Regions from separate parts of the Homo sapiens genome. Here regions 1, 2, 3, 4 and 5 are each linked to region 6. The links come from fine-mapping of genetic effects on gene expression. A gene starts in region 6. Each other region holds a variant in brackets. All regions are shown on one strand. Distances are between the middles of the regions.

Region 1 (4,000 bases), 60 kb before region 6:
TTGAGATTACTGAAGAGTACAATCATCCCAAAATTTAAGGGCACTACTTTTTCTCTTGGACACCAAACTTATCTGCTCTCATGATAAATCTTTTTGCTTCACCCAATATGAAATGTAGATTCCTTATCAGTCTAGAACCTAATATAGGTATGAATTACTGTCTGTAAAAGCTTTTGGTACCACATTGGGTTCTGTGGTAAAATGAAATGTGTTGTTCAGAGGGTCAGAAAATCTTGGTTCTAGTTTTAGTTTTTCCTTTAAGTAAATCATGACCTTGAGCAAGATACTTAACCGTATTCTTCTTTTTCTCTTCACTTGCCCAACTACTTACTCACAGAGTTTTCATGAAAATGCAATAACAAGTATAAAAATGCTTTATCACATACTAATAATGTAATAGTCCGAGTAATTGTGCACATGCTGTTCAAACTGTCTTTCCCCCTGGCCTCTACTGTAATTTTGTTAAAGTATTCCTACCACAAAGACATACAGAAAAAAATTGAGTTTTCTGTATATTTCTGTATATATGAGAAAATTTAATTAGGTTACACAGTTAAATTCAGTAAATTCTTGAATGTCAAGATATGATTTTCAACTATGTTAGGCAATCCTTAAAGCCCATACAACCTTGTTTAAAATATGAATTTGGCTGGGCACAGTGGCTCATGTCTGTAATCCCAGCACTTTGGGAGGCCAAGGTGAGTGGACTGCTTGAGCCCCACCCCCCCTCCCAAAAAAGTTAAATTTTTATCAGTTGATTAGCATTTATTTCTAACTGGAAAAGCATTTGTAGGCATTGACTGATCCTTAACTTAAATAATTCTCTGGCCCATGCTACACTGCTCATATAAGATAACTATACAGACAAGTAGAACTCCTTTCCCAATCTGCATAAACCTGCCCTAATTCAGAGGAGTAAATCCTTGGGATTTATGTACCCTAGTCATATTACCAATCCAAATTATTATTATTTTGAGACAGAGTCTTGCTTTGTCAACCCAGGCTGGAGTGCAGTGGCGCAATATCAACTCACTGCAACCTCCACCTCTCAGCTTCAAACAATTCTCGTGCCTCAGCCACCTGAGTAGCTGGGATTACAGGTGTGTGCCACCACGCCTTGGCTAGTTTTTTGATATTTTTAGTCGAGACAGGGTTTCGCTATGTTGGCCAGTCTGCCAGGCCCAAATTATTTAACTTTATTTTTGACAAGATCGAAACAAATTACAAAAGTTAGCATTCACACTAAACACTTAATTTCAAAGACTTAAGAAAGGCCACTATAACTGAGAAAGCTCTAGTTTTTATATCCAAAAAATAGTAAAATACATAGCAAGGCTTGAAAGCTCCCGGAGTAATCAAGTTCCAGGTTACCGTATTGCTATGTTTATAAATTCAGAACCCCCAAACTTAAACCATTTAGCATGCTTTAAAAATTACTCTCACTTGGTTCTAATGAAGTAAATTTTCCCTTAAACTCTTACCTGTAATGTTGCTGTTGAGGAGGAAGTGCCCATGTGATGGTCAGAGCATGAATTTTTCTGATTGGAACAACTAAACAAAAATATTTTCCAGAAGAACAGATGTAAGTGTTTCTCTATGACTTTTACTACAAGAATGTTTAAAATTCAATATATTTATCCTCCAATAAACAAGGAAAGGTTAAGTACAATGCAGTTATTGTTTCAACTTGCCAATTTTCCAACTCGAATAATGCAATTTTTGTAAATTTCTTTTTTATTTGGTTTCAGAGGTAGAGAAAGC[A/C]GGGATAAAAGAACTATGAGGATATGAAATGCTGCTGTGTATGGATCTCTTCTTGCAAGAAAGGATACAAAACTAGGAGTCAGGAGACCCATGGCTGAAATTCAGTCCTACCACTATCTTGCTATATGTGCTTACATGACCTGAGAAAATCACTTGCATTTAAATCTTTTTGAATCTGTTTACTCATAGTAAAATGAGTTAGTTGGGTTAAAGTATCTCTAGGATTCTTCTCAATGCTATTATTCTATGAAGAGGAAACCTAAAACCAGAAAGAATACAATAAAAAGTAAGTTGTCTCTGGAAAGAGTTAGTTTAATATTAACAGAATGGAGCCAGCAGCAGAAGCGTGTAACAAAACAGTCACTGATTAGGGGAAAGCAAAAGAGACTGGTAACGGGGTGAAGAAGGAGGGAATACCTAAGGCAATTAGTAAAAACAGAAAAAAAAATCTGCCGTGATAGAATAAAGAGAGATGGTGAATTAAGAATGTTTCTGCAATATTCACTGTAGGCAAATTGTTAAGTAAATTATAATGTAATCACACAACTCATTATGTAGTTATTACAGGTATACTATTAAATGAAACAAAGCAGGAGACAGAATTATATATATACTTTATAATCTCGACTTTGTTAAGAAAATATACCTATTAGAAAATCAGAAAGAAATCTGGAGGCCGGGCGTGGTGGCTCATGCCTGTAATCCCAACACTGTGGGAGGCGAAGGCAGGCGGATCACTTGAGGCCAGGAGTTCGAGACCAGCCTGGCCAATGTGGTGAAACCCTGTCTCTACTAAAAACACAAAAATCAGCTGGGCATAGTGGTGAGTGCCTGTAATCACTGCCACTCAGCAGGCTGAGGCAGGAGAATCGCTTGAACCTGGGAGGCGAAGCAGTGAGCTGAGATCATGCCATTGTACTCCAGCCTGGGCAACAGAGCGAGACTCTGTCTCCAAAAAAAAAAAAAAGAAATCCGATACAAATGACTTCTCTTCATGGTAAGATTTAAGGGTGATTTATCTCCCATTTCTTGACATTTTATATTTTTATTTAGCAAATATTACTTTCACAATGAATTTAAAAGGAAACGATTGCCAAAGTGTTTTCCCTCTCATCTATTTTTATTCATTTAAAGGCAAAAGAGCAGAATATAAATAAAATGAAACATGAATGAAAATTTAACAAAACAGAGAACAAAAGGGAAGAAAGGTAAAACAAGGAGAAAGCATGAAATAGACTGAAGTAGCAGCAGGGCACCAGAATCAATCGATCTGCAGCTAGTCAGTGGTCTGCTATCTATTATTAATTAGATCTCCATTGCCCATCTACTTCCTTTCCAACCCAGCTGTATTTTCTGTTGTGTTCTCATTTTCAATGAAAATTGGCAGCTTCAATTAGGTTATAGAGAATGTGCTAACATTATTTCAAACAGTTTTAAACTTTTGGTTCACAAACCTCTATAAAGTTTGTTAAATGCTGGTGTGTCAAATGGATCCGTTAAATGGCCAAAGTTTGGTCTGGGTAACCCACTGAAAATAAAACAAATACATACAAATTTAACTGGCAAAAGCCTTTATAAGCAATATCTTTAGGGATATCTAACTGAGAGATATTTATAATCTATTCTACATACTCCTTCTTGGAAAGCATTCCAGGCATGAACAAATAGATGGCAACACAGCCACAAAATCTTCAGTTACACAATCTGTTCTTAGCCTCAGCCCAATAACTCAAAAGTCTTTACAACTCAAGAGATAGAGAATGAATTTAAAGGACCCCCTCTCACCCCAATATTTACTGACTCTATCAGCCTCATTTAATTTCAGTTCTCCTCCTAGACAAAGCCATTCCAGAAAGAAACAAACTAGAGATAATACTTTTTTAAAATCAACGATTATACATGAAGTGAATATTAGGTATAAAGCACTATATTAGGCACTGTGGTATTTAAAAGACTTGGTCCCTCCTAGGGGCTTCTACTCTGGTTGAAGATATTGTAACTTTAATATTTCTTCCAAAACACAGTTGATGCAAATTAGTATTAAATGCCTCAAAGAATTTTTAACCTGTCTAATTAAGGAACCAAAGTTATTAGTGAATAATATATGAGATTTTTTTTAATGCTCATCAGGGATTGACAGAACCTAATGAATTCCTCTATTAAACACACCTCTGATTTTATTAAAGTTTCACATTTGATATTTCCATAGTTCACACTCAAGACTTCTAATCAGAAAAAA
Region 2 (4,128 bases), 88 kb before region 6:
ATCTAATCCTGGATTACAGTTTAATTAATTATTCTTAGTGCTTAAGGCTTCATAAAGTAATTTTTCCAACCTTTTTTTTAAAAATGTGCATCTTTTATTATCTTTTATGGTTAAACTTGGAAGCCAATTATTTGGCAACCTTGAATACAAGAGCTAGCTTTTCAAAGAAAGACACTTGAAATAATGGAGGATCCATTCTTTTCCTCTGTCAGATTGTATGTTCTGTCTTTAGCCCCTGCCAGGCAATTCCCCAGAATCTTCACTTAACTCATATTGCACATGTAGGGCTGCCTACCAACATTTTATCCAAAAATGTTTTATTGCCTTAGAGGGTTTGGGAAGAGTGTGTATTTATAGATCCCCACCCCACAGTGAACAAAAATAGATAGATAGATAGAATAAAATGAATGCCACAGCAGCAGATGGCTCATTCTGAAGGGAAATACAGAACTATATCTATCTATCTATCTATCATCTTTTTTATTTAAAAATACATTAAAAAAACAGGTATTAGTACCTAGCATTTAGTTAGTTATTCAATATACTGGTTACGTAAGGCCTTTCAAGAAGTAGATTCTCAGTCTGAGAGGACACAGGCCAGGGCTTCTCAAAGTGCTGCTGCAGGCTTTCTGGTCTCGCTTGGCCCATTCTGCTAATTTTCCTTTGCCAGCTCCTACAGTAACCCTGGGTTTATTAGTCTCAACAAAGGATAAAAAGTAAATCAAATGCTATGATGCCAGTGCAAAACTTCAATGGAAGCCCTAAGGCAGTAGTATAACTAACTCCATAAAATACAAACAAACACATTTTAAAATACACATTGCTTCAGGCCAACGTGACTGCAGTTTATTTATTTGACTATTTTATGGTAGGGGAGAAGGTTGAGTGTTGTTGTGAAAGCCCTGATATCAGTAATGGGGATGATACAATCTGCCAGCAGAGGAGAGGTTGGCAGGTAGGTCAGCTGCATCACTTCACAAGAAGAATTTGAATCCTCACTAGAAGGGGTACCATCCTCTTCCAGTTCATACTTCCCATATCCAACAACCTGAAAGAGGACAAAGACAAAAGTGAAAAATATGCTGACCAGATTTAGGGGTTTAAGAGTTCTGATGATAACCACCCAAACTCACTCAGTAAATGACAACCCTAGAATGGATGGAGTTAGTTAAACATACTCACATGAACGCTGAGCATTTTACTTCCTGGCCCTCTATGGGCCTTGAACCAGTTGACCAGGTCTGATTTTGAGAATGACTTCAGTGCTTCAATCTTACAAGGGAAGGGAAGATAGGAAAGAAATTCAAGAAGAAAGATAGCTCTTAAACCTAACCCCCAGGCAGATGTCCCTGGACCTGCTTAGCATCTGAAGACCTCATTTTATTCTTCCTATTCTCAGGTTACCCCTAACCTTCCAGACCAAAACGATGATGAAGCTCTCTGGCATGCCTTCACATTTTATACCAATCATCTACAATGGCAAGAGAGGTTAGCAGATGCTATAATTACAGCTAAATACCATACACTGAGCCCAACACCCACATCCCCTTAGTGTCACCTCCCAATTACATGGTAGCTGCATACCACGGCTTGAGGAAATCTACCTTGCTTCTATTAAGAAAACTAAAATGTGTTAAGATGAAGCCTCTTACTAAATAACCTCTTTACATCACAGAGCAATGATGTCCTATGGTAATTCACCATGTAGGGGCTATGTATTAACCAAAGTCACACTGGAGTACAAGATCCAGATCTTTTTCATAGGTTTTACTACTTTGGAATAGAAGTTGTCAAAACACATGCACTTGGAATAATGAACTCCGTAAAGACAAAGAGTCCTCAATTTTCTTTAAACGGCAAAACTCTTTTTCTCCACAAAATCTTG[T/C]AGACCTCAATATATAGCATAAAAATAGAGCTGCTCTGATTGAAATTGGTGGTGGTGTGGTAAGGATTAGCACCCAGCTCACGTGGCCACCTAAGGTGCTAGAGAGGCCAGTCTGAAAACTCAGGAAGTGAGCGAGTAATCAGGCCAGGACTAGTGTTTCGAGTTTCTCTTCCACACAATGCTGGTGTGCACAGACCTGTGATGCCTGTAGAATCAGGAACCTTGACCAGTTTGAGCTGTCTTACTCTGAAAACCATGTTACCTCGTGGGCAAGGCGGTCAAAGAGGTACTGCTGTGTAACCACTTCATTCCAGTTCCTATCCACCTCCTCCCCAAGGTGGGTATCCTCACACTCCTTCAGCTTGATGAGAGCTGTGACCTGTTCCCACCAAAAAGAAAGATGCTCAGGTGAGGCAACATACCACTTCCCACAGAACACACTGGGCCCTGTCCAGCCCGGCTTGTGATGGACATGCCAGTATAAGAGGCACGGATGAAGCTAGGGAGACACTATTGTAAGAGGAAGGTGGGGCTGCAAAGCTCAAAAACTGGCCGGCGAAGCCCTGTTAAGATTTGTATCTGGGGGCTTGTGTGGGCCAAAGGCCAAAAGACCAGGCTGGCACAGTCACCTGGGTGTTGAATGCCTCTTCAGTGAGGTTCTCAATCTTCTCCTCAAAGCTAGAAAGAAACTCTTCTATCTTCTTATCAACAACTTCAGAACTGAAACAAAACATCTTCAATCAGAACTAAAACAAAACATCTTCAATTAAGTCATCAGAAACCCGATCTCAGGCAGAAGGCAAAAGAAGGAATTAAGACTAAGACATATATCCAGGAAAAAAAGCTAAAGTGTTTTCCCAGGCCTCAGTATTCCACCTGACTTTGAGGACAGAAAGAGAAAGAACCCTCCCCCTCACCCCACCTCCAGCCCAGTTTCCTGGTATCCTCATAATGAAGCAGTCACAACCATGTATGACCATTCCAAAGCTGAAAACTAACAGGTTTCAGCAATGCCTGTCAGATCAGGCATCCTTTCCCTTCTTGTCCTCAGGTCTGCCTGAAGAGAAGAAACACTGGCAAGCCCCACACAATGACCACAGGACTTGAATCAAGTCTGAAAGGGCCACTGGAACTATTGATCAGTCCTGGAACAGACCATCTATAACAACCCCCATCTTCCCAGCTTCCACTGACTAAATAGAGCAAACCTGCTTGGTCAGGGTTGCCCAAGGTTTAAGGAAACACATGTAGCCCCTACTCTCCATGTCCATAATAGGTTACACTCATCTATTCACTCACTCACTCACTTGTATTTGGTTGCCTGAGTCCCCACAGTGACAGAAAATCCTAGAATCCCGGATGTGTTCCTACAGGTAGGGTAGACATGGTACCTACAAGCCAGAGAGAAAAGTTATATGAGCTCAGGTGATCATCTGGGCCCTGGCCTTGGAGGCACTAGATAGGAGTGGGAAAAGTTTCTGCCCATCCTTATTGGAACTGGAAGTCCTGAAACAGGACCCAAAAATGTTAAGGTGTCCATACCTCTCCTGAATTGGGGACCACAAACTAGCCTTTTTTCTTATCTTGAAACTTGACCAAACTGAAAACCTGATTACAGTCAAAGATACAAATTCCAAAAGTTTGGATGACTAAATATCACCCTATGAGATGGAAGGAAGCTCTAACAGGCTGCTCAGTAGGGATATCTGATGAACAGCCTGCAAAGTAAGCCCTAGGCCCTTATTTGAGCTCAGTGGCCCTGCCAGCTGACTTACCCAAGGGTCTGCTTGGTTCGAAGGAAGTCAAAACAAGGTTCTTCCATGTGCATCTGTAATTCAACATACTGCCCATCAGCCCAACTCCTCCCAGCAGAGAAACCTCCATTTCTCTCCCCAGAGTGTTTCACATACCTCCCAAGTCCAGCCTCCCTTAGTGCCTTTTTCCTAATTGGCCCAGGCTTATACTGGGTGAGAACAGTAAATGACCATCTCACCTTCAAATCACAGATCTCTGACTACCCCATGTCCCTAACCCAGGCAGAAAAGGCCGGGCCTCATAGTGGGTCAGGGGCTGCTGAAAACCTCAGCATCTCCTTTATGCACTTACCACAAGCAGCTCCATAAGCGTATATTCTCTTAGACTCCTGGTACCTGACTGAAAAGAGAAGGTTGTCAGGCCAACTGAATATCCAGTGGTTTACAGGGCTTTTAAATAATCCAGCTATTCTAGGCAACCACTTAGGT
Region 3 (4,135 bases), 320 kb before region 6:
ACAAACTAAGAAAGCTTCAAATAGAGGGCGTCTGTCCCAGAAACCTTCGGTGGCTCTGAACTGTAGAAATCACTGATCAGAGACACTGAGACACGTGGCCATGGGACTTTGCAGGATATACCCAAGGACAGGTGGCTGTGGCTTCCAGAGGCTCTGTTGTACAGTGGGTGTAATCAATACAGCAAAGGCTTTAGAGGCTGACAGACCTATGTTTGAATCGTGTCTCTACCATGCGTTAGCTGTGTGCTCTTGGACATGTCGCTTGGTGTTTCTGAGTCTCAATTCTCTCAAACATAAAATGAGGAAATAATAAGGGATAATAGTACTTACCTTATAGAGTTGTGAGAATTTGGGGAGGTAATGTAGGTAAAGCACTCACCCCAGGCCAGTGTTTAACAAAAGTGAGTTCCCTTCCTCTCCAGGGGAATTCTTCATCCAGGACTTTGTAGATTATAGTTTCTAACAGACTCCTGGGAGGAATCATGGCCAAGGCCTTTACTCTGGGGCCTTGAGCCACTCTCTTTTCTCCTGATTTGGGGAGGAGTCCTCCCCATCTTTCTTAATAAGTCTCAGAGAAGAAAGAGATGGAGAGGACAACAACTTTTTAAAGGCTGGCGTATTGGTCCCCTCCTTTTTACCTTCCAATTAAAGGAAAGAAGACTGGCAGAGAGAGGGAAGCTGGGTCAGGACTTATCATCATGGCTGGGGCAATCACCCCTAACATCTGTCCGGGAATTTTAATGTTTCAGAGTTTTACCACATCTCTGATTTCCCTTTATCCCTAGAAGCACCTCCAAGGATCACGTAGGACCAGCAGAAGCAGCGTAAAGTATTGGAACTTTGAATCTGACATCAGAAAGACCTGCACTCAGCCGGGCACGGTGGCTCACGATTGTAATCCCAGGCCGAGGCGGTGGATCACTTGAGGTCAGGAGTTGGAGACCAGCCTAGCCAACATGGTGAAACCCTGTCTCTACTAAAAATAGAAAAATTAGGCAGGCGTAGTGGTGCATGCCTGTAGTCCCAGCTACTCAGGAGGCTGAGCCAGGAGAATCACTTGAACCCAGGAGGCAAAGGTTGCAGTGAGCTGAAATTGCATCACTGCACTCCAGCATGGGTGACAGAGTAAGTGAGACTCTGTCTCAAACAAACACAAAAAGAGCTGTACTTAAATTCTAGCTTTTCTACTTACCTTAACAGATGTATGTCTTCAGGCAAATTATTTAACTTTTCTGAGTCTCCTTTTCACATTTAGAAGTAGGAGACTTTCACAGTGTCATATTTTCACCCCCATCAATATTATTGATGCTTGCTCATTTTCTAATGTGGGACCTGAAATTTACCAGGTGCTTAAAGAATCTTTTTGTTTTTCAGATTCACTGATTCTAGGTAAATCAGAGGAACAAGCAACATGAACAGAAAAAATGTAGAAAATGCAATTATGCTGAAGTACAATTGTTGTTTCAGAAGTCCAGCATCTGGTGTACTTAACAATAGAGAATATATTAAATTTTTCCAAAATAAAAAAAACAAGTAGGAGACTCGCTAGTGAAAATTAAATGGCATATGCAAAGTCTTTAATACAGCATTTGGTACATGAGAGGGACTCAGTAAATTTTAGTAACTTATAATTATTAGGAAGACTATGACTGCCCCCATTTAAAAGATCAGCAGTCTGAGGCTTATAAAGACCAAGACTTATTCAAGTCTTGTGATTTCCAGCCTGAGGCTCTTTCTACTTTGTGAAAACTGAGAGACTGTGGCTCAGTGGCTCTGAGCTCAGAGGGCTTTACCTGCCAAAGGTCCAGGCTGAGAACACTAATGTTATAATAGTGACAAATGGTGGCGTCAGGCTTATATTTAGGGTTGTCTATTTTGGGATGAATCTACTCCCCCTGGTAATTGGGATTTTCAATGATCCAAGGTTTCCATTCTCCCTAAGCAAAGAACCAGTGAACAAGGCATTAGTATTTTGTCATTCTTCTGATCTCATGCAATCAGAAAGGCCAATTGATATGGTTTGGATCTGTGTCCCCACCCAAATCTCATGTCAAATTGTAATCCCCAGTGTTGGAGGTGAGGCCTGGTGGGAGGTGATTGGATCATGGGGGCAGAGTTCTCATAAATGGTTTAGCACGATCCCCCCTTGGTACTGCATAGTGAGTGAGTTATCATGATATCTGGTTACTTTTAAATTGTGTAGCACCTCCCCCCTTTCTCTCTTGCTCCTGCTCCCACCGTGTGAGAAACCCTGCCATCACTTTCCGCCATCACAGTGGACACCTGAGGCCTCCCCAGAAGCTGATGCTGCCATGCTTTCTGTATAG[C/A]TATAGCCTGCAGACCCATGAGCCAATTAAGCCTCTTTTCTTTATAAATTACCCAGTCTCAGGTATTTCTTTATAGCAATGCAAGAATGGACTAATACACCAATTGATTTATGAGGCAGTTGTGTATTAGACATAAGGATTCAGAGAAGGATTCCAGGAGCTTCTTTCCCTTTCTTTGAGTTAATGCACAAGATTCTTTCAAATTCCCCTTGCTACCCAGAGGAAGCCAAGCGAGGTGGCAGGGACCCATTCTGAGCTTGGCCCCATGTCTGCACCAGCTCATTCATGAAATAAAGAAAATGTAGCTTCTCAGAGAATATCATCTGAGTATCCTGGCAGTTGAGGCCGTTCTCTTCCTGGTGTGTAGTGTAGGAAACTGTGGCCAAATAAAATCATGCTTGCTTCAGTCAGTTTTACCTCTGGACAATTTGACACTGATTCCTTTCGTTCTTCTTGCTTCTAACATGAGGTCAGGAGTTAGCTCTTAAAAATAAGTGTCCCTTGGCTGGGTGCAGTGGTTCACTCCTGTAATCCTAGCACTTTGGGAGGCAAAGGCAGGCGGATCGCTTGAGGTCAGGAATTCAAAACCAGCCTGGCCAATAGAGTGAAACCGCGTCTCTACTGCAAATACAAAAAATTAGCCAGGCGTGGTGGCACGTGCCTGTAGTCCCAGCTACTCGGGAGGCTGAGGCATGAGAATCTCTTGAGCCCAGGAGGTGGAGGTTGCAGTAAGCCGAGATCACGTCACTGCACTGCAGCCTGGGTGACAGAGCAACGCTCTGTCTCAAAATAAATGAATAAATAAATAAAATAAAAAGTGTCCCTACCCCTTGCATTTTTGGCTCATTCATGGACACCCTTTCTCCTTCTGGCCTGTTTCTAAGACTTCCAGTTCCTGACCCCAAACCCATGTCCTATTTTGACCACATTCCTGTGACTGGCTGCTTTCCACCACTCTGGACAAACTCCAGGCCCAGGGCTGCCTGGCCCTATACCTGTCAAAGTTGGCCTTTACCAGCCCACCCCGTCCAACGTAGGCATAGCCCTGTGAGCAGGGCTCAGATGAGGGTACAGTCTTATTTGCGGGGTTTAGGGGAAGGGAAGATGACCACAGGATCTCAGAATTTCTGTTTCATCAATTAGCGTTGACATGTCTTTTGTCTCATTTCTCACACCCATTGGAAAGAGAGACCCCCCTCACCTTATACTTCGGATTTGGCATCAGAGGCCTTTCCCACTCCCCATCCATAGCCTCCTTCCAGTTATCTGGCTTCTTGGCTTCTGGATCCAGGATGTATTCAAAGTCTTCCCAGTACTAAAATGAAATGTTCCTTCATGAGGATAGATGCGTAGGCTGAGAAAAAACTGGGGTCCAGGCTGGGCGTGGTGGCTCACATCTATAATCCTAGCACTTTGGAGGCCAACGTGGGAGGACTGCTTGAGCCCAGGAGTTCAAGACCGGCCTGGGCAATATAGTGAGACCCCATCCCTACCCCAAAGAACTTTAAAAATTAGGCAAGTGTGGTGGCATGCACCTGGTGGGAGGATCTGAGCCCAGGAGGCAGAGGTCACAGTGAGCCATGATCATGCCATTGCACTCTAGCCTGGGTGACAGAGCGAGATCATCTCAAAAAAAAAAAAAAAAAAGAAAGCAAGAAAGAAAAGAGAAGAAAGGAAAAGAAAAGAAAAGAAAACGGGGGTCCAGAGTGCTGTCAGGCTGGACCTGGCTCCTTCCCTCTGCCCCCTCCCATCATCATCTATATGAAGGTCCAGCTCAGGACCTGTAAACAAATGCAGGGCAGAAAAGA
Region 4 (4,000 bases), 77 kb before region 6:
GAGGGTACCTCAGAAGGATACTTTTTTCTGATTCACGCAAAAGTATCCTACAGGCTACAATTAGCCCTGGACTAAAGTAGTAAGAACAGGCTCTGAATGAAGGCCCAAGGGGGTTGCCTGTGAGCAGAGGGTTTAAGTATTAGCATACAGACTGTGTAGCTGCCTTTCTGCTCTCTTCTGGAAGCTTGGCTGAATTCTGGATAGTTAAGATTGCTAGATAAGTGACATGTTTAGCAATTTAACTCAGCTACTAATCACCAACATACTAAAATCACCAGTAAATACTTCTTCTGGTTTGTTTTTTGTTTGTTTTTCTATGAGACAGGGTCTATCTCTGTCATGCAGGTTGGTGTGCGGTGGCATGATCATGGTTCACTGCAGCCTCAACCTCCTGGGCTCAAGCAATCCTCCCACCTCAGTCTGCCAAGTAGCTGGGACTACAGGCATGTGCCACCACACCCAGCTAATTTTTTAATTTTTTGTAGAGATGAAGTCTTGCTATATTGCCCAGGCTAGTCTTGAACTTCTAGGCTTGTGATCCTCCCACCTCAGCTTCTCAAAGTGCTGGGATTACAGATATAAGCTACCATGCCCGGCCTAAAACTAGCACTTCTTTAACATTCAGGTATAATGATTGGTGAAAACACCCTTCCTTACTTTTAGTCTCTACAGTAAGCTGCTTTCAGTCCCATTCACAGCTAGCTACATAAGCTGGGTTTAGAAATACCGTAACGCTATGCACGGGTCTCCTAAACTAGAGCACGATTCAAACACGGATGAAAATTAGCACTGCAACTATAGCCTTAACCCCCACACCCACCCACTAGGGAGAGTAATACTTTCAGGTCCTCAAAATATAAGCTCATCTCATTTATACCCACTTGGCCAAAGTCTCGGGCTTGATGAGGATGTTAAAGTAGGTCTTCTTCAACTGCTCAGTTATCATTGTAAAGACAGCTGGTGTGGAATTGAACTCAGCTAAGTAGTCAATAATGAGCTGAAACAGTAGCTAAAAGAAAAAGAAGGAAGCATTTTAAGAAGCATGGAAATCCACTAGGTATTAGGGAGGGAAATGTTTCTCTTTGGTTTTTACCAGGTACCCAGCATGGAACTAGGCATTGTGGGGGGACATAAGAAAATTACTAACAACTCAATTTGTTCGTTTGTTTGTTTGGGTGTTACCTGGAGACAGGATATCACTGGTCACCCAGGCTGGAGTGCAGTGGTACTATCGACTGTAATTCATTATAACCTCGAATGCCTAGGCTCTAGCCATACTCCCACCTCAGCCTCCTGAGTAGCTGGGACTACAGACAGGGGCCACCATGCCCGGCTAATTTTTTTGCTTTTGTACAGACAAGGTCTTCTTATGTTGCCAGGCTGGTCTCAAACTCGTGGCCTCAAGTGATCCTCCTGCCTCAGCCTCCTAGCCTCAAAGAATCTTAAGGGTCCAAAATTCTAAATAATTGTCAAATTTGGAACAATTCTTCCTTTTTTATCATTTCATGGGTGTTCTCAATAAGATTTGTAGTTTGTCTTCAGATAGATCCTATACTTTTCCTGTTTATTCTTAGCCATTTTATTGG[CT/C]TTTTTTTCTCAATATTGTAAATAAATGTAAGATTGTTTCCATCCATTTGTTTCTTTCTTTTTTTAAGAGACAGAGCCTCGCTATATCGCACAGGCTAGTGACACGATCATAGCTAAGTATCCTCAAACTCAAGTATTTCTCCTGCCTCATACTCCGGAGGAGTTGGGACCACCGGCACATCCCACTGTGCCTGGCTTCCATTTCTAAGTGATTACTGGTACTATGGGGGAGAAAAAGCCATTGATTCTGATATACTAGTCTTTTGACCAGCCATATCACACCTAATTTTTTTTTTAATTTTAGTGGTATATGAGGTTTTCTAAGAATACAATCATATCATCTGCAAGGAAAAATATTTTTTCCAAAAAAGTTTTTATTTTTTCATCTTACTCTAATAGCCAGAACCTCTAAAACAATAACAGAATAATAGAGATGATTGTGGATTATTCTTGGCTTGTTGCTGATGTCAGTGTTCATCATTTTATCAGTTAATGTAATGTCCGCTGATAGTTCTTTACTTGAGGTTTTTTGATTTTTTTTTTGAGATGGAGTCTTCGCTCTATTGCCCAGGCTGGAATGCAGTGGCGCGATCTCGGCTCACTTCAAGCTCCGCCTCCCAGGGTCACACCATTCTCCTGCCTCAGCCTCCCGAGTAGCTGAGACTACAGGCGCCTGCCACCACGCCTGGCAAATTTTTTGTATCTTTAGTAGAGACGGGGTTTCACTGTGTTAGCCAGGATGATCTCGATCTCCTGACCTCGTGATCCGCCCGCCTCAGCCTCTCAAAGCACTGGGATTACAGGCGTGAGCCACCGCGCCAGGCTGAGGTTTTTATACTTAATTAATTTCCTTCCATTCCTATGTATTAGGAATGCCAACTCAAATTTATCAAATGATTTATCAGCATTTATCACTATATTCATACAGTGGCTCTCCTTTGACTTGTGTTGTGGTGACTTATGATCATCAATTTCCTAATATTCCACAACCCTAGCATTCCTGGTACTTGAATTATTCTTTTTGCTAAACTGGATTTAATTTTTAGAAAGTTTACATCTATATTCTACAGATAAAATTGATCTCTAGTTTTCTATACATACATACATACATATATATATGTTATATATTAGGTTTTAATATTAAGGCTAAGTCTCACAAATTCAAGAATATCAAATACTTTTCCATGGTTTGTATTTTTAATAAGCTCTCCAGGTAATTCTAAAACATATTTTCCAAATGACAACCACTGAATTAGGCTTTAATCTGCTTGAAACTTAAGCTACATTATATTTAGGCCTCAGAGGCTGACAAAGTAAAATTATTCTTGGCTTGTTGCTGATGTCAGTGATCATCATTTTATCAGTTAATGTAATGTCCGCTGATAGTTCTTTACTGATGGCGTCTCCTTCTGAGACCAATCTTTGTTCCATGGGGAGATGGAGAAGGGAAAAGGCATAAAAAGGTGAGAGCTATACTCTTCTCTTGGGTTTTTGCCCAGATGAAGGCTATTAACACCTAGCACAGGTCTTTCTGGCAGGTCCTTTCCTCTAAAATTTTTCTTGTATAACCCTATTTCCCTAAATCTTAATATAATATATATTCTACCCAAGAAACCTAGATATAAAATTTATTATTGAGTATATTATATTGCTTTACCTGGTATTCAGTAATCTAACTCTCTTAGCTAACAACCCATTATTTTTTCCTCCTCTTATGAAGTTTTTGATGAAGCAATACTGGAACATATTTCTCACTAAGAGATTAATAACTGACATGATACAGACCCTGCTTCGGAAAGGTTCATAAACTTAGAAGGGAAACAAGACACACATACTTGAAACAATGAGGAGCATAAGATGAGGAAGTAAGGGCACAAGCATTTGAGTTCTACTCTATTTCAGGCAAAACACCAGTCAAATTTGTTATTCCACAGCCGGCATGGTGGCTCACGCCTATAATCCCAGCACTTTCAGAGGCTGAGGCAGGCAGATCACTTGAGGTCAGGAGTTCGAGATCAGCCTGGCCAACACGGAGAAACCCCATCTCTACTAAAAATACAAAAATTAGCTGGGTGTGGTGGTGCGTGCCTGTAGTCCCAGCTACTCAGCAGGCTGAGGCATGAGAACTGATTGAACCCGGGAGGCGGAGGTTGCAGTGAACCAAGATCACACCACTGCATTCCAGTCTGGGTGATGGAGTGAGTATCTGTCTCAAAAAAAAAAAAAAAAAAGGTTATTCCTGTATGGTAAAAAATTTAGCTAGAACCAATCCTAAATGCCAGTGTTGGTTGTGGAGAAACTGACAGCAAAGGGAAGTGAAATCAATCCTAAAGCATGGGCTATAATCCCATGCACTGCCAGTAATTAATGAAACATATGTTGTTCTTATGGATAGTCAGTCACAGTTAGAATA
Region 5 (4,135 bases), 180 kb before region 6:
ATAGTAATTTTCCCTCTTTTTTTGTATAGTATACTAATTTGCCCTCGTTTGCTTAGTCTGTCTTTTTTACCTGGAATGTCTTCCCTGTCAGTGCCCCTCTCCTTCTCCACATACCCCCACTTTTTTCTTTCTCTCTCTCTCCCTCTCACCCAGACACACACATATACACTCACATACCTTTGCCTCTAATTTCTACTCAGTTTTAAAACTCAGCTTTAATTTCCTTGCCTCAGAAGCTTTCCCTGAGTTCGCCTTTACAAACACAAATGTCTTTATTTATTTTGATGCTCAAATTGTCCTCAATTTGACCAGAGGAATCCTATTTAAGCTGACCTCTGTGTCCTTTTAACATGCCCCTGTCATTCTTTAAGTATTTCCTTACTTTCTGGCACAAAAAGACATTCCAGGCTCATTTTATACCTTCTCTGTCCTAGTTCTGGAATCAACCATTTTTCCAGGGAGTGCTGATTTCTAATGATATTTAGAAATCAACACCCAGTGCTAGGTGTAGTTACTGCTTATAAAGTGTTATGGCTCCCAGGCCCTCTAGAGAGCTAAGAAACATATGAATGTTATGTACATAGAGCTAAGAAACATGAATGTTACATACATAGGGGTGTGCTTGTGTCTACACATGTGTACATCCATGTTCATATTTATTTCCATATGTATTTATCTACATGTATATCGAAAACCATGATGAGGTCATGCTGATACCTCCAGTTACAGTCTATCACAACAGAAATAATTCTGTTTTTTCCCTTACCATATTTAACTCCGTTTTCCAAAAGTGAGAAAAACTTTATCTTTGTTGTATTTACTTATTTGATCAATCCTTCTGTATGTAATTATTTTCCAATCATCCATGTCCTTTTGTAAATGTCACCATCACTCCATTCAGCCTTGGAAACCTTGTGCCATGCGGAGCCTGTTCACTGCAATGTGGACACCTTCCTTCTTTTTCTTGGGTTCTGACTCCTCATATTGGACTTTCCCATTGTATAGCTTCCCTCTTCCTCTTGCTTTGGGCTCTCATGCCCTGTGCTAGGTTGTGCCTTTACATGATGCATGCCCTCTTCACCCTACTCAGGCTCTAATGTCCTGAGCCAGATCTCCCACCCATTTGGTACAGTACTTTTAACTAAACTACAGAGCTCATTTGAATTTTCCCTCTAATGCTCCTTTTCTGTTCCAGGATTCAATCCAGGATGCCACATTGCTTTTAGTTGTAATAGTTCTTTATTTGTTTTTTATCTTTCATGACCTTGACATTTTTTATGAGTATTGGTCAGTTATTTTGTAGAATGTCTCTCATTTTGGATTTATCTGATATGTTCTCATGATTCGATTGCAATTATGTATTTTTGGCAAGAATACCACAAACATGATGCTGTTGTTTCCTTGTCTCAGTGGATTGTATTCAGAGGTATAGGATGTCAATTAATCTTATTAACTGGTGATGTTAACCTTGATCACTTGATTAAGATAGTGTACCAGATTTTTCCATTGTAAAATTATTATTTATTCATTTGGGGGAGATACTTTATTCTCTTGTGGGAGATACTTTGAATCTATGCCAATTTCCTGTTTCTTCTCACTTTTGCCCATTGATTTTAGCCATTAGTGGATCTTGCCTGATGTAATTATTGCTGTGGTGTTGGTCTAATGGTGATTTTTAACTTTTGTCAGTCCTTCTACACTTATTCATTGTAATTTTTTTTTTTTGAGATGGAGTCTCCCTGTTGTCACCTGGACTGGAGTGCAATGGCACAATCTCGGCTCACTGCAACCTCTGCCTCCCCAGTTCCAGCAATTCTTCTGCCTCAGCCTCCCAAGTAGCTGAGATTACAGGCACCCACCACCACGCCTGACTAATTTTTGTATTTTTAGTAGAGACGAGGTTTCACCATATTGGCCAGGCTGGTCTCAAACTCCTGACCTCAGGTGATCCACCCGCCTCGGCCACCCAAAGTGATGGGATTACAGGCGTGAGCCACCGCGCCCGGCCCATTGTAATTCTTCTAAAGGAAGAGATGTCTCATCTCCCCTACTTATTTACTTATTCAATTATTTTATATTAATATTGGACTTGTGGATATTTATTATATTCTATGGGTTATA[G/A]TCCAGTACTCTGTGAATTTATTTACCTAAAATCATGAGTTCATACTGAAACCTCCGATTGTAGTTCAACATCACAAGGTTTATTCTAACCTTCTCCCTTTCTGTATTTCTAATTTTTTTCTGATAGTAAGAAACCTGGTTCTCATTATCTATAACATACTCACTTGTCTGTAGTTACAGAATTGCTAACATGTACTCCTATGAAAATCAAATTTACTAACTAGAGTATTGTATTTGTATATGGTTCTTTTTTTTTGGCCTATCCTTTCACTATATAGTCAAAATACTGGTTTTTTTTGTTTTTTTTTTATACTTTTAAGTTTTAGGGTACATGTGCACAACGTGCAGGTTTGTTACATATGTATACATGTGCCATGTTGGTGTACTGCACCCATTAACTCATCATTTAACATTAGGTATATATCCTAATGCTATCCCTCCCCGCTCTGCCCACCCCACAACAGGCCCCAGTGTGTGATGTTCCCCTTCCTGTGTCCATGTGTTCTCGTTGTTCAATTCCCACCTATGAGTGAGAACATGCGGTGTTTCGTTTTTTGTCCTTGCGATAGTTTGCTGAGAATGATGGTTTCCAGCTTGATCCATGTCCCTACAAAGGACATGAACTCATCATTTTTTATGGCTGCATAGTATTCCATGGTGTATATGTGCCACATTTTCTTAATCCAGTCTATCGTTGTTGGACATTTGGGTTGGTTCCAAGTCTTTGCTATTGTGAATAGTGCCACAGTAAACATACGTGTGCATGTGTCTTTATAGCAGCATGATTTATAATCCTTAGGGTATATACCCAGTAATGGGATTGCTGGGTCAAATGGTATTTCTAGTTCTAGATCCCTGAGGAATTGCCACACTGACTTCCACAATGGTTGAACTAGTTTACAGTCCCACCAACAGTGTAAAAGTGTTTCTATTTCTCCACATCCTCTCCAGCACCTGTTGTTTCCTGACTTTTTAATGATCGCCATTCTAACTGGTGTGAGATGGTATCTCATTGTGGTTTTGATTTGCATTTCTCTGATGGCCAGTGATGATGAGCATTTTTTCACGTGTCTGTTGGCTGCATAAATGTCTTCTTTTGAGAAGTGTCTGTTCATATCCTTTGCCCACTTGTTGATGGGGTTGTTTTTTTCTTGTAAATTTGTTTGAGTTCATTGTAGATTCTGGATATTAGCCCTTTGTCAGATGAGTAGATTGCAAAATTTTTCTCCCATTCTGTAGGTTGCCTGTTCAGTCTGATGGTAGTTTCTTTTGCTGTGCTGAAGCTCTTTAATTTAATTAGATCCCATTTGTCAATTTTGGCTTTTGTTGCCATTGCTTTTGGTGTTTTAGACATGAAGTCCTTGCCATGCCTATGTCCTGAATGGTATTGCCTAGGTTTTCTTCTGTGGTTTTTATGGTTTTAGGTCTAACATTTAAGTCTTTAATCCATCTTGAATTAATTTTTGTATAAGGTGTAAGGAAGGGATCCAGTTTCAGCTTTCTACATATGGCTAGCTAGTTTTCCCAGCACCATTTATTAAATAGGGAATGCTTTCCCCATTTCTTGTTTTTGTCAGCTTTGTCAAAGATCAGTTAGTTGTAGATGTGTGGCATTATTTCTGAGGGCTCTGTTCTGTTCCATTGGTCTATCTCTGTTTTGGTACCAGTACCATGCTGTTTTGGTTACTGTAGCCATGTAGTATAGTTTGAAGTCAGGTAGCTTGATGCCTCTAGGTTTGTTCTTTTTGCTTAGGATTGACTTGGCAATGTGGGCTCTTTTTTGGTTCCATATGAACTTTAAAGTAGTTTTTTCCAATTCTGTGAAGAAAGTCATTGGTAGCTTGATGGAGATGGCATTGAATCTATAAATTACCTTGGGCAGTGTGGCCATTTTCACGATATTGATTCTTCCTACCCATGAGCATGGAATGTTCTTCCATTTCTTTGTATCCTCTTTTATTTCATTGAGCAGTGGTTTGTAGTTCTCCTTGAAGAGGTCCTTCATGTCCCTTGT
Region 6 (4,120 bases):
GAAAGGAGAAATTAGGTTGGTCCTGAACTTGGAGCTAAGTGTCATCTGTCAAAGAGGTGTGGTGGGAAGTGGAAAAGATTATCTATAAGGTTGTTTCTTGCGCTAACGCTGTAGGGGCTTATAACAAATTTAGAACTAGAATCCTTCAGCTTTCAATTCACATAAGCAAGAAATTTGTAAAAAATCGGCAAACGGGCTGGGCGGGGTGGCTCACGCCTGTAACCCCAGCACTTTGGGAGAAGAGGCGGGCGGATCACAAGGTCAAGAGATCGAAACCATCCTGGCCAATATGGTGAAACCCCGTCTCCACTAAAAATACAAAAAATTAGCCGGGCGTGGTGGCGAGCACCTGTAGTCCCAGCTACTGGGGAGGCTGAGGCAGGAGAATCGCTTGAACCCGGGAGGCGGAGGTTGCAGTGAGCCAAGATCGCGCCACTGCACTCCAGCCTGGTGACACAGCAAGACTCCGTTTCAAAAAAAAAAAGGAAATCAGCAAATGATACACTGAATTTGGTGTCAGATAGTAGGGGTCATCATACCAGCTCTGTTATTATTTAGCTGTGTGATTCAGAGCAAGAAGCAAACTCTTTGGGTCTCAATTTCCTCAACCTGTTCAACGAAGTTATTGGACAATATGAACTCTATTTAAAATACATCAAAGTCCAGGCCTGGCACAGTGGCTCACGCCTGTAATCCCAGTACTTTGGGAGGCCAAGACAGGAGGATTCCCTAAGCCCAGGAGTTTGAAATTAGCCTGGGCAACATCGCAAGACCCAGACTCTTATTAAAACACACACGCACACACACACACGCAAGATACATCATAGTCATGATACTCCATGAAATAAGCTACCTCTGAAGGAAAATACTCAGGTGGGGACTGAATCACCAATTATTAGAAATGTTTAGAGAACTCCTGTACAAACCAAAAGTAGAGAATTTCAAGGTTAGAAGAAACCTTACAACTCACCCAACTGAGACCTAAGCCCTCTCTAATATATTCCTGGACGAGGTCGCCCAACCGTTTTGGTAATGGAGAACTACCCATGGAAACAAGTCACTTCAACTTAGGCCAAATATGATGCAAAGTTACTTTACTGAAGCCACACCATCCTCTGGTAACTTTCGTCCACTAGTTTCACCTATCACTTAAGTGTCCCTCAAATATTTTGGATAGTGATAATATGCCCCTTAAATATCCTGTCCTCCAAATTAAAGTATCCAACTCCGTCAACCTTTCCTGGTAACATAATACCAAGACTCCCTCACCATTCAGGCTGCGTTCCTCAAAGAAACCTTCATTCTTGCTTTAGCGACTGTATTCAAATGACTCGAAAAGCTTCTCCCATTCTGACGTCTTACAACCCAAGATCTCCCACTTGCCCAGCTGACACCACAGGGAAGCCTCTAATCACGCTTGCCACCTCCACCCAAGGAAGCATTTGGGGTGGAAAGTGTGCCCTGTTGCTCCATTGGGAGACATGGAGACAAGAAGTGACGGCGGCACCGACAGAGAAGCCGGCACACTGTTCGCCTCCCCATTGCAAGCCTCCTCCCTCACCGGTATTGCTTGGGGTCGCTGGGAGACTTGACGATCTCAGGGTCCCCAGCATTACTGAGAGACCCCCTCCGTCCCTCTTCCTCAGATTCATCCGCTCCTAGACGGGCAACCCGGCTGTTCTCGCCCAGATCCTGTCCATTGGGCTGCAGGTCAGGGCAGCTGCAGGTAGACTTCGCCTTGTTCCTTCCAGGCATGGCCAGAATAGGAAAGGGTCTGGCAGCAGCAGAGTCTTCGCACCGACCCCGCGTTTCGATTCCCCAGAGCGCCGCGAGCTCCCGCCCGGCCTCACACAACTTCCTCCGGGTGGCACAGACTGCAGCAACAGTGACTCTCCTCAGCATTCACCACCAAGCTGGAGCGATGGACATCCCGCTTCCCAGGACCCACCTCCTCCGCGTTCTAGAGGCGGTGGCGGCCGGCCCTGGTGCTGCCGCAGCCGCGGGGAACAGGCCTGAACCCCTCCCCCAACCCAGTCTCCCTCTCGCCGACTTCCCTCGTCCCTCCGCCCTCCCGGCCGCCGATGACGCTACTGATTTCAGCCAATCATGAGGCAAGAAAGTAGTCACGCTCACGTAAGCAACCAATCAGAACAGGAAAGGAGAGGCACCAACGTGACCCGGACTGATTCTCGGAACAGCCAGCGAACATTTCGAAACCCAAAGTGGGCGGGGCGAGGGAGAAGAAGCGGAGAGAGTGGCGCGGAGGACGACGGGAGAAGGGCCCCCGGCGCGTTTATGACGTACGAGTGTGTTTTGTGGAAACCACTGAGTAGTGCTCCGCGTGTCAAAGAAAAATATTCCCCTAATGAGAAAACTGAGAAACGAGTGCAGAGAATTAATTCCAAAGTTTTAAATTTTCCCATTCGTGTCATAGTTTGGGTACCCTACTCCTCAGACCCGGGGCGAGCCTTCGGCTGTGACTCAGCACATAAAAAACCAGAACGCCGGAAGTATTTTCCTACACCCGCCGGATGGACGCTGCTCCCGAGCGCCGCAAATACTAATTGGCTCTTCTCTACCCTACAGTCGGCCCGACAGTGGTGGGGTTTCATCCTCAAGCCCTAAGAAAGTGCTAAAAAGACCAGTCTGGATGTGCTAACTCTTCTGTGTGAAAACGTTTTTTAGCTCCTCCAGCCTCCTGTTAAATTCGGCCAATTTTTATCGAGCAGCTGCAGCGTCTGCTGCCTTCAAGTCTCCTTTCCCAGTTTTTCCCGCTAGCAGTGGTCTTTGGTTAGCAATGTAAAATGTGACGGAAATACAAACATAAATGAAAGCTAAAAAGCAGCTGAAATTAGTAAGATGCACTATACTGACACCATGGGGTAAGAGATCATAGCTCATACATACGAATGAGCGGGGAAAGACGTGAAGCAGGGAGATGTGTTGATAGTTACTGTATCTTCAAGGTTTTCGAGGCCTCTTCTGAGTTCCAAATGCAAGGAATACAACCATGAACAAAACAAAACTTGCCTTAGGCTGGGCGTGATAGTGATAGCTCACACCTATAATCCTAGTACTTTGGGAGGCCGAAGCGGGAGGATTGCTTTGAGCCTGGGAATTTGGTACCAGCCTGGACAACATGGTGAGACCCCCGTCTGTACAAAATTCTTTTTTAAAATTAGCCAGGCTTGGTGATGCGTGCATGTGGTCCCAGCTACTCAGGAGGCTGAGGCAGGAGGAACGCTTGAGTCCAGGAGGTCGAGGCTGCAGTGAGCCGTGATTGCAACACTGCACTCCAGCCTGGTTGACACAGTGAGACCCTGTCTAAACAACGACAACAAAAATTTAAAGCCTTGCCTTGGGGGAGCTTGCATCCTAATGGGAAGGAACTGTAAAATATGTAAACTAAAGTAAATCAGGCTTTTAAATAATTCAAGTTAGCTTTCTTCAGAAGTCTTATTGAGGACTGCCACCTGGGAGAGTCAGAGAGTTTTTTTTTTAGACTGCTCCAAAGCAGTGTTTCAGCCCGCAGCTTCTATACAGGTGGTGGCCGCTCTGCATGTGCTTGGAAGTTAAATCAAATGTGCTCAGAAAGGCTGGGCCTGTAATCCCAGTGATTAAGGAGGCTGAGGCAGAAGGATTGCTTGAGGCCAGGCATTTACAACCAGCCTGTGTAACATATCAAGACTCTGTCTCCACACACACATAAAAAAGCAAGGCGTGGTAGAACATCCCTGTAGTCCTAGCTACAGGAGAGGCAGAGTTAAAAGGATTGCTGGGACTCCTGAGTTTGAGGTTACAGTGAACTATGATTGTGCCTCTGCACTCTAGCCTGGTGACAGAGCAAGACCTTGTCTCTAATAAAAAAGAAAAAATGTACTCAGGAGTTACACTAGAGCAAAATCTCATGAAGGTTTAGGTGGAAGAGTACACATGTTTATAGATTATGGAGGCATAGTCATTAATCCTGTCAGAAATGTACAGGAAGAGGCAAGGTCGAGCATCATTGGATTTATCTTTTCTAAAAATGCAGTGATTCAGGCAAGAGACATGGGAACTTGTGCTCTATCCTGCATATTTTCAGGGTATTCTGGAGGGCTGTGCGCAGTCACTGAGGCTG

Which allele goes with the higher level. Positions count from the first base shown, and alleles are read on the strand shown. Sizes are in standard deviations (SD) of each study's normalised expression. Not every link is listed here.
In carriers of allele A in region 3, the expression in cerebral cortex of the gene that starts at base 2,014 in region 6 tends to be higher than with C alone (moderate effect, 0.53 SD a copy in GTEx).
For the expression in monocytes of the gene that starts at base 2,014 in region 6, allele C in region 4 goes with a higher level than allele CT (large effect, 0.77 SD a copy in BLUEPRINT).

Evidence for each region. PIP is the estimated chance that this variant, and not a neighbour inherited with it, causes the effect.
Region 1: its variant is the best candidate, but not a certain one, in a credible set for the expression of NRDC in blood mononuclear cells (TOPMed, PIP 0.70).
Region 2: its variant is the best candidate, but not a certain one, in a credible set for the expression of NRDC in ileum (GTEx, PIP 0.75).
Region 3: its variant is the best candidate, but not a certain one, in a credible set for the expression of NRDC in cerebral cortex (GTEx, PIP 0.52).
Region 4: its variant is the best candidate, but not a certain one, in a credible set for the expression of NRDC in monocytes (BLUEPRINT, PIP 0.62).
Region 5: its variant is the best candidate, but not a certain one, in a credible set for the expression of NRDC in whole blood (INTERVAL, PIP 0.79).

The regions. Positions count from the first base shown.
Region 1 is chr1:51,816,585-51,820,584 of GRCh38, forward strand. NRDC (nardilysin convertase) reads right to left here. Exons shown (of 31, transcript NM_001101662.2): 9 at 3,216-3,289; 10 at 1,482-1,551. Among named protein-coding and RNA genes, the nearest start is that of MIR761, 18 kb to the right of the region's middle. The variant A/C (reference allele first, on the strand shown) is at 1,762.
Region 2 is chr1:51,788,386-51,792,513 of GRCh38, forward strand. It overlaps OSBPL9 (oxysterol binding protein like 9), which reads left to right. Exons shown (of 24, transcript NM_024586.6): 24 at 1-834. NRDC (nardilysin convertase) reads right to left here. Exons shown (of 31, transcript NM_001101662.2): 25 at 3,992-4,039; 26 at 3,661-3,713; 27 at 3,193-3,276; 28 at 2,515-2,605; 29 at 2,148-2,264; 30 at 1,183-1,272; 31 at 825-1,048. The coding sequence ends at 851. Among named protein-coding and RNA genes, the nearest start is that of MIR761, 46 kb to the right of the region's middle. RefSeq lists a silencer at 238-438. The variant T/C (reference allele first, on the strand shown) is at 1,886.
Region 3 is chr1:51,560,097-51,564,231 of GRCh38, forward strand. EPS15-AS1 (EPS15 antisense RNA 1) reads left to right here. Exons shown (of 5, transcript NR_183651.1): 2 at 786-927. It also overlaps a transcript of OSBPL9 not described here and the pseudogene CALR4P. Among named protein-coding and RNA genes, the nearest start is that of EPS15, 43 kb to the left of the region's middle. The variant C/A (reference allele first, on the strand shown) is at 2,328.
Region 4 is chr1:51,799,675-51,803,674 of GRCh38, forward strand. NRDC (nardilysin convertase) reads right to left here. Exons shown (of 31, transcript NM_001101662.2): 21 at 882-1,009. Among named protein-coding and RNA genes, the nearest start is that of MIR761, 35 kb to the right of the region's middle. The variant CT/C (reference allele first, on the strand shown) is at 1,587.
Region 5 is chr1:51,699,232-51,703,366 of GRCh38, forward strand. All of the region lies in intron 3 of OSBPL9 (oxysterol binding protein like 9), which reads left to right. Among named protein-coding and RNA genes, the nearest start is that of OSBPL9, 84 kb to the left of the region's middle. The variant G/A (reference allele first, on the strand shown) is at 2,122.
Region 6 is chr1:51,876,714-51,880,833 of GRCh38, forward strand. It overlaps NRDC (nardilysin convertase), which reads right to left and starts at 2,014. Exons shown (of 31, transcript NM_001101662.2): 1 at 1,562-2,014. The coding sequence starts at 1,902. RefSeq lists enhancers at 1-335, 2,004-2,298, 2,182-2,361, 2,752-3,305 and silencers at 2,052-2,101, 4,059-4,120.